2 separate regions of the Homo sapiens genome follow, and region 2 is linked to region 1. Evidence: fine-mapped expression QTL. A gene starts in region 1. The other region holds a variant in brackets. All regions are shown on one strand. Distances are between the middles of the regions.

What was found. PIP is the estimated chance that this variant, and not a neighbour inherited with it, causes the effect.
Region 2: its variant is fine-mapped to the expression of TUBE1 in monocytes after R848 (Quach 2016, PIP 0.95).

Annotation. Positions count from the first base shown.
Region 1 is chr6:112,085,379-112,090,767 of GRCh38, forward strand. TUBE1 (tubulin epsilon 1) reads right to left here and starts at 2,104. Exons shown (of 12, transcript NM_016262.5): 1 at 2,032-2,104; 2 at 1,855-1,928; 3 at 1,178-1,230. The coding sequence starts at 2,056. It overlaps FAM229B (family with sequence similarity 229 member B), which reads left to right and starts at 2,213. Exons shown (of 4, transcript NM_001033564.3): 1 at 2,213-2,342. RefSeq lists enhancers at 1,634-1,683, 1,818-2,349, 2,084-2,273.
Region 2 is chr6:112,151,552-112,156,940 of GRCh38, forward strand. It overlaps LAMA4 (laminin subunit alpha 4), which reads right to left. Exons shown (of 39, transcript NM_001105206.3): 15 at 4,014-4,155; 16 at 3,300-3,396. It overlaps LOC107986633 (a long non-coding RNA gene), which reads left to right. Exons shown (of 2, transcript XR_001744299.2): 2 at 3,769-4,182. Among named protein-coding and RNA genes, the nearest start is that of FAM229B, 67 kb to the left of the region's middle. The variant G/A (reference allele first, on the strand shown) is at 2,890.

The DNA of each region.
Region 1 (5,389 bases):
GTAGATGAGAGTGTAGTTATGAAGAGTCACCTTATGAAGAAAGAAAAGCTCCCAGGCTGAGTCTCAACTATGTAATACTCAATGTAAGCGTTGGGTAACAAGAAGTAAAGAGGTGGGTGTAGGAACTTAGCAAGAGAAGCGCCGGAAAGGAAGTATGACAGAAGCAAATTTGAGTCTCCTAAGAGAATTTAGAGGTGAGGATATTGTGGGCTACAAATAAGAGGGAATCTATAGTCTATATGACAGATATCTCCATAAAATAAATATAAATGATACCAGCCATTAAAGTAACTAACTTCCTTTGGTCTGATTCCATGGTCACCAAGCAACCTTCAGATTATTACACAGCTTTTCAGTTAGATTTCCTACAAAAGATAAAGTAATGTGCCTATGAAAATGAGAATTTGGTCTTTGGTTAACCTGGCTGTACTGGAGAGCACTGAACCCATCTCGAGATGCCAATGACACTTCTGAGTTTGCAAGCCAGTGCCCTAGATAGACTCTGGAATTCACCCAGGAAGCGCGGACTAATCAGCTTTCTCTGAAGATAACTGCTCACACACCCAGCCAACTATTTTAAACTAGAACTGATGTTCCTATTGGATTAAAGCCTGACACGAAGTATGTATTTTTCAGTTTAAGCACAGGACAGTTAGTTTTATGAAGTATTTTGAAAATGCATGAACTTAATGATTTAATATTAAAAGCTTATGGAGATATCCTAAACGGCAACTTAAATTACTCTTCCAGATAAAACATATATGGTACTTACATATACTCTTTATTAAATAAACAAAAACAATCCAACAACTGCTTGTCACCTTTTTAAGTATATTTTTATACTTACAGCATATATGTAAACAATATATTTTTCTTTCAAAAGTTAGTTATTACAGGATGCATTAACAAGATGCCCTCTGGGAAAATTTCAGCTTTCTTTTAATGAAACTTATTTCAAGGTTAAGTTAAAAGAAGTCACACTAAAGGGAAATCTGTTGTCTTCTTCGGGAAAATGATATAAGAATATTAATAATCTAATAGAATAAATATGCTTTCAATAATGAAACAAAAAAACACAACTTCGCAGCTGGCTATTTTTATTGTCCTTTGAAGAATTCTCTCCCAAGCTACTGAAACTTAAAGTATCACACTGTGACAGACTTTAATCCCATCTTACCTGGTGTCCACATTTCTAAAGAAGCTGCTTATTGCCTCATCATAAATTCCTTTCTAAAAAGAAAAACATATGTTAATAGCATTTAGGTTTTGCTTCTCGCCCAAATCAAGTTCTTTCAATTTTAATTACATAATACTGTAATGGCTAGGATGAGACTCTGATAAGAAAAACCAAGTATCACAAAATGCGGAGCCTGACTCTTCCCAATCTCCTTAGAAGAGTAAATGCCAGATCTACAGATAAAAAGTTCAGCAGGGGGTGCTAAAGAAAGGATTTCACCCATAGGACTGTAGGACAGGTCCATCAAATGAGCGTTCTCTGGATTCTTCGTAATCTTTTTAAAAGCTGACTGGTTAAATTAAGGAATACAATAACCACACGTGTTATCTATTTTACAAAGTACTTTCCCATATACAAATCTCACTGTTCTGCACACGAACACCAATAAAGAGGAGACCCTGAGAATCAGGAAAAACGTTAAGACTAAGGTCGCTGGCCAGTGTTCTTTTAGTTTAGTGTGTGTCTGACGCAACATGTTTAAAAACCAGTACGTTCTTTACTGGGAAGATCCCATGCATCTTAAACGGGTCAGATGAAAGCTCAAGTCGATTATTTCCTGCGTATGGGCTGGAAGACCTAGCTGACAGGCGAGGGGGCTCGCGGCGGCGGGCGGGTACCTGGTTGACCGCGGCGTGCTCCCTTAGTGCCAGGTCCCAGAAGCAGCAGCCGATCTGGTTTCCGCACTGGCCGACTGCGACCGGAGGAGAGGAAGGAAAGAGAATAGGACATTAAGCAGGAAACATGGCCGCTGGATTCCGCGGCGACCAGGTCTCTACCCGCCCGGCGTAGCTTACCCTGTACGACCACCGACTGGGTCATGGTGGTGCGCCGCCGGCTCCGGGAGCTTGCTAGCCCGCGGCCGCTTCTGCATTCCCCCAGCAACGGCGCTCTGCTAGAGAGCTGCCGTAAGTCACGCTACTGCCGCAAGCCTCTGCCGTCGCTAAGCACGTCTGTAGGTTCAGGCTAAGGTTTTCCGTCAGAAGGCCGCGCAAGTGCACTTGCGTGTCACCGTTACCGTAGCGACTGGGCTTCTGGACTGTATATCCTAGCTGCCTTGTCAACATCTTCGAGCATCGGCAGCTCCGGAGGCCGGGGTAACTGGCAGGTAACTAGGCTTTGGAGTGGTATTTTAAAATATGTGTCGTTAAGCTGTTCGTGGGCTATCAGAGGTTTAATTTTTGTTCACAGCCTCAACACCCGGGGCGGTGGATCAGTCCGTTTATTCAGATTCCACGGGACGCTGCGTTGGCATCTCTGTTCAACAAGCCCTTTATTCTAATAGAAAATGAACAATGGCGTTGAGCAAAGAGAAACCCCAGAGAAATAGTCATGTCAGGGCACAATTGAAACTAGATGGTTATACGCTTTGACAAAAATGGCAAAGCTAAGGTCACAGACCCAACCAGTATTTGTTGAACGCTGTATACTCCCCAAATTAACTTGTAGGCTCGCTGGGAAGATTAGAAAGAAATTAAGGCATAGATCCAGTTCCAAGAAGCTTACAATCTAATTGAAGACATACACGCGAAATACTTAAAGAATTGTGTGGCGTTGACTATAAGTGCAATAGGATTCAGTGGTTGAGGATGTAGATGAGTATGTAGAAGTCTGATAGAAGACACGAGATTAACACTAGGCATTTAGATGGGTATTTAGATGGGATAGGCAGGAGAAGATTAAAAAGTTAGGCATTATGACAATTACCAACTACTTAAAATTGTCAAACATTAAAATATGTAAACTTCTATTGATCAAATTAGACCAGATTTTAATTAAGAACTCAAGTACTTCTTTAATGAAATTAATATTTTCCACAAAAATTCTGAAGAACTACGAAACTCTAAGAAGTCTTCTTTGTTTAATAAAAAGTTATATGGTATGTGCTATGAATATGTGCTAATATGAACTGTAATATTCAATGGATTAGAACACTTTATTGTCCCACCAAGACACGTAGTAGTTACTATTAAATTTCTCTGGTAGCCGGTAGGTTTAAAGTTGCAATGGATTTTATATCTTTTGGTAATAGGCAGCTTTCGGTCAGTAAATTTTTGTAGGCTGGATTTATTCTTAACTTCTTACTGAGTATGGGGTCAGTGGTAGAGGTAAAGTTGGGCATTTTAGGTCTTGATGCTAAAGTCCCAACGTCTGGGGCTTCCAAAATTTGCAAGTCTTGGTCCAGTTTGTAGGCAGTGATGTGAATAGGTCTGTATCAGTGTGTTATCAGTGCTAGGTGAGATGATACACTGGCCTTTGCAGAGCCCTACCCTTCATGCAGTCCCAGTCATTATTCCCCACACAGGAAAGAAAAGTCCTAACACATCTTATTAATAACTTCAGTCTCTAGAGAATCAGACTGAGAGACAGTTCTGCTTAAGAGCCAAGCAAGGTAGAGCCTCACATGCCAGCCACTCCAAAACTTCCGTATATGCAAACCCGGGTGAGCCAAGTTGAGATCGGTTGAACCGCAGCGGGCTATTCAGAATATTATAAGCAAGAGAAATGTTTTTGGTTGAAATTACTGAAATTTTGGGGTGCAGTTTTATTGTAGTGATAGCTGACCAACATACAGAGCAAATAGAGTGAACAGAATTCCACATGCTGAAAATGAAAAAGAAAAAAATTATTGGGAATCCTATGGACTCCTAAAATTGAAGGAAGGAAGACAAGGATGGAAGGGAGAGAGGGAGGGAAGGGGGAGAGGAAGGAAGGAACGATGTAAAAGATGGATAAAGTACAAGACCTTGGGGTAAAACCTAGCCTAAGAGGGGAGAAAAGAAAATTCATCATATCTACTTTGTGCTGAAGAAGAACTTAAGAATATGAATGCAATAAAACAGGAACTTAAAGACAAGATACTAAAATAATAAGACTCAAGCTCTATGAGGGCTGAGTCTTGTTGTTTTATCCACTACTAGGGATAGTACCTTGCATATAGTAGATAGTAAATAAATATTTGATGAATAAATGAAATAAAATGGAGATAAAAGAACTAAGGAAATTAACTGAAGACAACAACATCCACCTTAAAGGACTTAAAGAAATAATTTTTAAAAGCATTTAAGAAGCAGACTAGAGAGATGCACATCAAATTATAATGTAGAGGAAAGTCTTAAAATAATAACAATACTAGGCAAAACCCAGAGATATGAAAGTTATTAAAAATAATATGTATGAAGGAGACAAAGATGGCTCAACATAAGATTAACATGTGCCCACAGCAAATGGAGGAAAAAATGTACTTGATAAAAAAAAAGGAAGAAAAATACATAGATTAAAAGGATACACACTATGTTCTATAGGACAATTTATAGAAAAATCAACACCAAGACATGCAGCCTCATTAAGGCATTCAACTTTTCAGAATAAAGAGAGAATTTTTTAGGTACCTAGGCATGAAATGAACGGGGGAGTGGGATGAAGAAAAAACAATTAATTAGAGTACTTTAGACTCATCTATATAGCACATTCAGTACTGGAAGGCATTGAAAACATGCTGCAAAGTTCTGAAGGGGAATAAAATGTTTTAGAAGAAAATTATTCTGTAGCTTTTGTAAGTTGTCATTAAAATATAATTCAGAGTTGTGGGTGGTCTGTTTTTATTCTTGCTTGCACACCGCCATTTCTGAGCTCATCTCTTTCTCATATAACTTGACAAACAGTAGCAACTGACATGTTATTGTTTTCCAGCCTCTTCTCCCAACATTTAAATTCATTAGTTAAATCACATGCCTTCTAGGTTATCACAGAGTTTTCCAAAGATTTTTCCCAATAGGTTTGTTCCTGGGTGACATAGATCACTATCCTTTTAGCTTTCCACAACAGTTTCCTTGTTAATTGCTGCTTGACCACTTAGGTATGGTGACTTATATTTTAGATTTTTGTTATAGCGGTACCTAAGTCTGGACCAAAGTCTGTATACATCAGCATAAACTTTGTTGTGCTGTGGTAACAATCAACCCCAAAATCTCAGTGGTGTAAAACAACAATTTTTTTTTTGTACATGATACATGTCCATTGAGGGGTGTCTGGGGGCTATGCTTTATGTTATCCCCCTTCTGGCACTCAGGCTGATGATCTGCCATTATTTGGTCCATTTTTGATTTGTTTGATTTTAAATTGATTAATTATTGTGTATATTAATGGGGTACA
Region 2 (5,389 bases), 66 kb after region 1:
TCTTCATTTATTTAGATCTTTATGCGTAGCAACCTTAGCTTCTTTTATCAGATTTATTCCTATGTATTTGATGCTATTGCAAACACTGTTATTTTTAAAAGTTAATTTCCCAATGTCGTATGTAAAATTAAATCGGATTTTTACACATTGAATTGGTAATGTAGGGTGTCCTTGTATTGTTTCTAATATTAGTGGAAAAGCATTCAATATTTCCATTTTAATTGCTGAATATTATTTTATTTTTCAGATTATGGAAGTTTCCTTCTATTCTCAGTTTGCCGAAAGTCTTTTTTAAAAGTCAAAAATCTTTTTTAAAAGTCAAGTTTGTTAAATAATTTTTCTGCATGTAGTGAGATGATCATATGAATTTCTCCTATATCCTATAAATGTGACAAATTACAATTGATTTTTTAAATGTTAAACTATTCTTGAAATCCTAAAATAAACTCAAATTGGTCATCATATATTGCACTTTATAGGTGTGCTAGATTTGATTTGCTAATATATTGATTAGAATTTTTGCATCTCTTTTTGTGAGAGAATTTGGCTTATAATTTTCCTTTTTAATAATATCCTTATGTGATTCAAGTAACCAAGTTTTGCTGGCTTCATAAAACAAGTTCCAGAGTGCTTTCTTGTTTTCTATTTTCTAGAAGAGCTCGTATAAAAGTGGTGTTATTTCTTCTTTAAATGTTTAAGAATTCACTGGGGCAGCCATCTGAGCCTTGAGATTTCTTTGTGGGTAGGGATCGATTAGTGGTTAAATTTATTATACATATGTATGTACATACAGTTCTATCAGATTTTGTATTTGCATCAGTTTTGAGAGTCTTTTGCTTATAAAATTGTTCTTGAAAGCACACTTGTGGCACAGTCACTAGACTGGTTATCTTTGAGCAAATCCCAACAGATCATGATGTAATTACCTCATCATCTGAACTAAAGGATCAACTTTGCCAGTAATTCTTCATTTCTGTTTGTGCTTTAATTCCAAAGCACTGAGAATTTTGTTTCTTAACAAACAGAAAAATAGTTTTATCACTTCTAATTACACTTTTCTCTTTCTCTCCAATGGGATTGTAAATATACACTCTCTGACGGCACCCCTTTGCTGTTCTATTAGGTAGTCTTGATGTGATTGGTTTAATGTTATCTTTCCCCCCCAGATATGTGTATAATGGGTGGTGGTGTCATGAAGTACAGTTAACCAAATACAAGCACTTCTTTCATATTTTCTCTGGGTAGTGTGAAGAATTTGCATTGCACCCTGCCTCCTTCCTCTTTTCTAATTTCAATTCCCAAACATTATAATACAAACAATGTTTTAGCTCTTATTTTGGGTCTCATGACTGCAAAAACAAAAAAAAATACTACCTGATATACTGAGAAAGAATATATTTAACTCTATATTTGGAGCACTTGATAAAAAGAGGAGGAAGAAAATCAATTTTGGGCTTGATGTTTATAAGAAGAAATGTTTCATAAGAAGTGTGTTCTATTTGGAATTTACTGACTTGCATAAATACTTTTCATTTTGCAAATGAGTTAAGTAGAAGATTCATTTAAATAGCAGCTTCCTGAGATTATATTGACTATCAACTATTTGATATATAATGAAAAGGAAATTTGGGAAATAAAGATTACTGATCATTGAAAGGAATTTGGAATGGAGAAATGTAATCTGAAATTATAATGTAATTCAGTAGATGACTATGGTTTAATTTGAAAACCTGAATGTACATCACAAATGTGTGTATTATCAAAGGAAGACAGTCCTATAAAGTTCTAAGCCACACAGTACTAACTCCCTGTTGTTGTTCCTTTTGCAAATAAATACAGAAAGGGATTTGGCCAAATGAGATCATGAAATAGGTGAACAGGTCTGCAAAATATTCAAACAGGCTAATGCAGAGAGATTTATCAGACATAAAATATGGAACTTTGAAGGGATGTGGGTAGGGATCGATTAATGGTTAAATTTAAAATAGAAAAGTTGCTTTTATGAGGTTCAATAACTCAATAATGACAAGACTGAGAGAATATATTACAAGTTATCAAAAAGAATAAAATATTTAAGTCACTGTGTCATGAAGACTGACACATTCTGATCTTCACAAGAAACAAAAGCAATACATAGATATAGCAACATTTATTTTAAAATATTTTACTGTTAATATTCTAATTCTTCACTACTGATATTCTAATCCATAGAGTATGTTCAGGATAGACTTACATAATAAATTAATTAGACATATAATAATTAGACTAGAGAAACAATGACACTTTTTATTGCCTTTGTTTGCCCAGAAAAATAAAATAACAGTTGTTTTATGGGAAATAAATAAGTATCTGTGTATGAAAAGCAAAGTGCATTTATCTTCTCTGTGTAATGGCTCTTTGCAAAAGATAAAGAAAATGCATGATTAAATGAGATTAATTACTTCAACAAAATTGGGTGAGGTTTTTAGTTTCAAACTTGGCCTTTGTTTTTAGGTGGCAGTTAGAAGTTCGCTAGATGATGAATTTCCAACCTCATTAGTCAATGTTCAAAAATCCTTGGGAATTAGTTCATTATCTCAGAGATGAATAATGTTTAGTGAATTTCTTAGTCCATTCGATTGTTTTTAAGAGTAACTCACAAGATTCAAAATTGTCTAATGCGATTTTGCTTTTATTTTTCCTTCCCTCCCTCACCCTTGGATGTGCACACTTCAGCAGATGCAAACACTGGCCTTTGGAAATGCTTCTTACCATATGCTTGTTAGGTCTGTCCTAAATACAGTAACCTATGTAGAACACAAACTACAAAAAAAAAAAAAAAAAAGAAAAGCAAATAACCAGATGGCTTTGTGGTACCCTGTCATCCTAATTGACTCACAGTGATGACTC[G/A]TTCCTTCATGGGAAACATTTTAAAAGGACTTCGAAATTGTTCAAGAAAGAGGAAATTTTGTGCAATATAGTTTTAGTGTTAAGTGTATTTTAGGACATTTTTCCCCTAAAAATTGGTATTTATGGTAAGTTTCTATTAATCAGCCTATTTGATTAGCAGGAATAGCCACAGTATGTGAGATAGCTATGTGTTTCCATGTAGTTTACTACATAGCATTTTTTTTTTCAATCACAATTTAAAGTATCAAATCTTTGCTCTTTTGTAACTTGACTCTGAGCAGGAACTACTGATATGTTATGTAGTTATAATACTATTCTTTAATCCTAGATTTGGAAATCTCTGTCTACGTGTATGAAAGGAGGGAAGCAGCTATAAATTAGAAAGGAGATAGGAAAGTGAAGATATTTACTAGACTCTGCCTTTGCTTGCAGTTCTCTGGCTTGATTGAGGAGGTTCTCACTTTCATCTTTATGGTAAATGATTTGAGTATCAATCCCACTCACCGCCTACAAAGGAATTGAGAGAAGAGGGTAAAAATGACAGCAGAAGAAATCAGCTATTCATAGTTGAAGGATTTAAATGACACAGTTTATCTGCTAAACACCAAGCAAAATGCATTTAGCTTTATTTTCACAGCTTAAAATTAAGGTCAAATATGTGACCATGAGGAAGTAATGCCTTTGGCATTTTCAAGGTAATGTTTTTTTGGGAAAGATTCAGTGAACCTAGAACAAAGCCCTGGCCAAGGCCCCACCAAAGTGCTTGCCACATAGAAGCCACACAATAAATAATTTTGAGTTGAAAAAAATATAAATGAATGCATAAAGTATCTTCTCTATCAGCAAGAACTAATTTTAAATACATATTTTTTTTTTCAGGGACTTTGGCTAAAAAAATAAACTGTCAAAGGAACTGGCATTTGCTGACTGGACTACAGCACATCTCGAAGAATCTGCAGACTGAAACCTTCAAGGCATTCATGAAATGGTCTTCCCTTAGTTCCCCTGCCTTTTCCACTCTTTCTGCCATTTGGATTTCACACTGGAAGTTCAAGAGATGACATCAGAAAACAGAAAAGCCAGTGGGAAAGGCAAGGTATAAAGAACTTTCAGGGAATACTCACATCATAAATTCGGTCAGTGGTGTTCAAAGCAAATTCTGCTGTTTCATTGGCTTCACTAACATAATTAACAATATTTTCATAGACATTTGATGCATCCAAAGCCTTCTGTACCAGCCCGTTCATATCTGAACTGTGCAACTTCCTGTTAATAAACAAACATTGTTATTTCTCCTTCTTACCTTCTTGGGGAATGGGGCCATGTTTAATGCTTGCTTTTTAAATACTTCTAGGATCACAGATGCTTCCTTCCTGTTATTCAAAGTCACCTAGTGTGGCAAGGTTTTCTTGAGGGTCACACCTCCTCTGCATTCTTCTGTCTTTGCTGAACAGCATTTTGGTTCTCTGACAGCTGCCTGTCTGGCAGTAGCAGCAGGAAAAGGGAATGACGATTTAAAAACAGCCCTCTGCACTTCTTCTTGCAGGAGTTTGTTTATGTGATGGAAGTCAGGCAGAGGAATGAACCATTATGATGACTACCTAGTGCTTATCCAAATCAGCATTGTTATTTCCTTTCTGTAGAGGAAGCCAAGGCTCTAGGAGAGTATGCAGAGCTTGGCCAGGGCACGTATTGTCAAGGTTTGTTTCACTCCTGAGGCCTGGCTGCATCCTGGGCCTCAGGAGTGAGACAGCCCCAGCCCTTCCTCAGCACACAGCCCCACCTCAGCCCACCCTCACCCCTGCCCTTTCACACGATAGTCTCTGCCTTTGCCCCTCTCTGGCCTGTGTAAGGTTCATCCAACATTTACTGAGTACCCATCACACAGGGTACTTGCACACTTGCACACAGGGGCTAATAATGTGAGATATAACAGGAATAAAATATAGAAATGCTTGGTATACCATGCCTGGCATCTGCTAATCGTCAGGGTTTATTATTATACCTACACCATTTCCTGAATTGGGATTTTAAAACTCTATGTGTACCCGCATAATTTATTTTATTGACAAATACTTCTACTGCCTCTGTAATATAAACTCTAACCTCCACTTCCGCAGTTCGTCTAAATCCTTTGTCTTAATTTTATTCAGTCTTAAATCCACCAATTCCTTATTTTTTTTTCTCAGTCCCAAACATCGATGATTAGTATCATCACCTCATTTGTCAGTAACTTCCAGAAGGTCCTCCGTGACCCAGTATATGACATTGCAGATCCCACACTGGCTCCTGTCTTCAAACCGCCTGACCTGTTGAGCTCGGTAATTGTTCCTCAATCTCCAGCATCCAGTTCCAGTCCCTGTGTGCTCCCTTAGAGGGACTTTCTCTATATTTCTTTGGCTACTTCCCTCTCTGTTAACCAAGTCTATAATCATTCTACCCCCTCTACAAAAGGGCTGACTCATCCATTAGGCACAGCGTTTTCATTTTTTTTTCAATC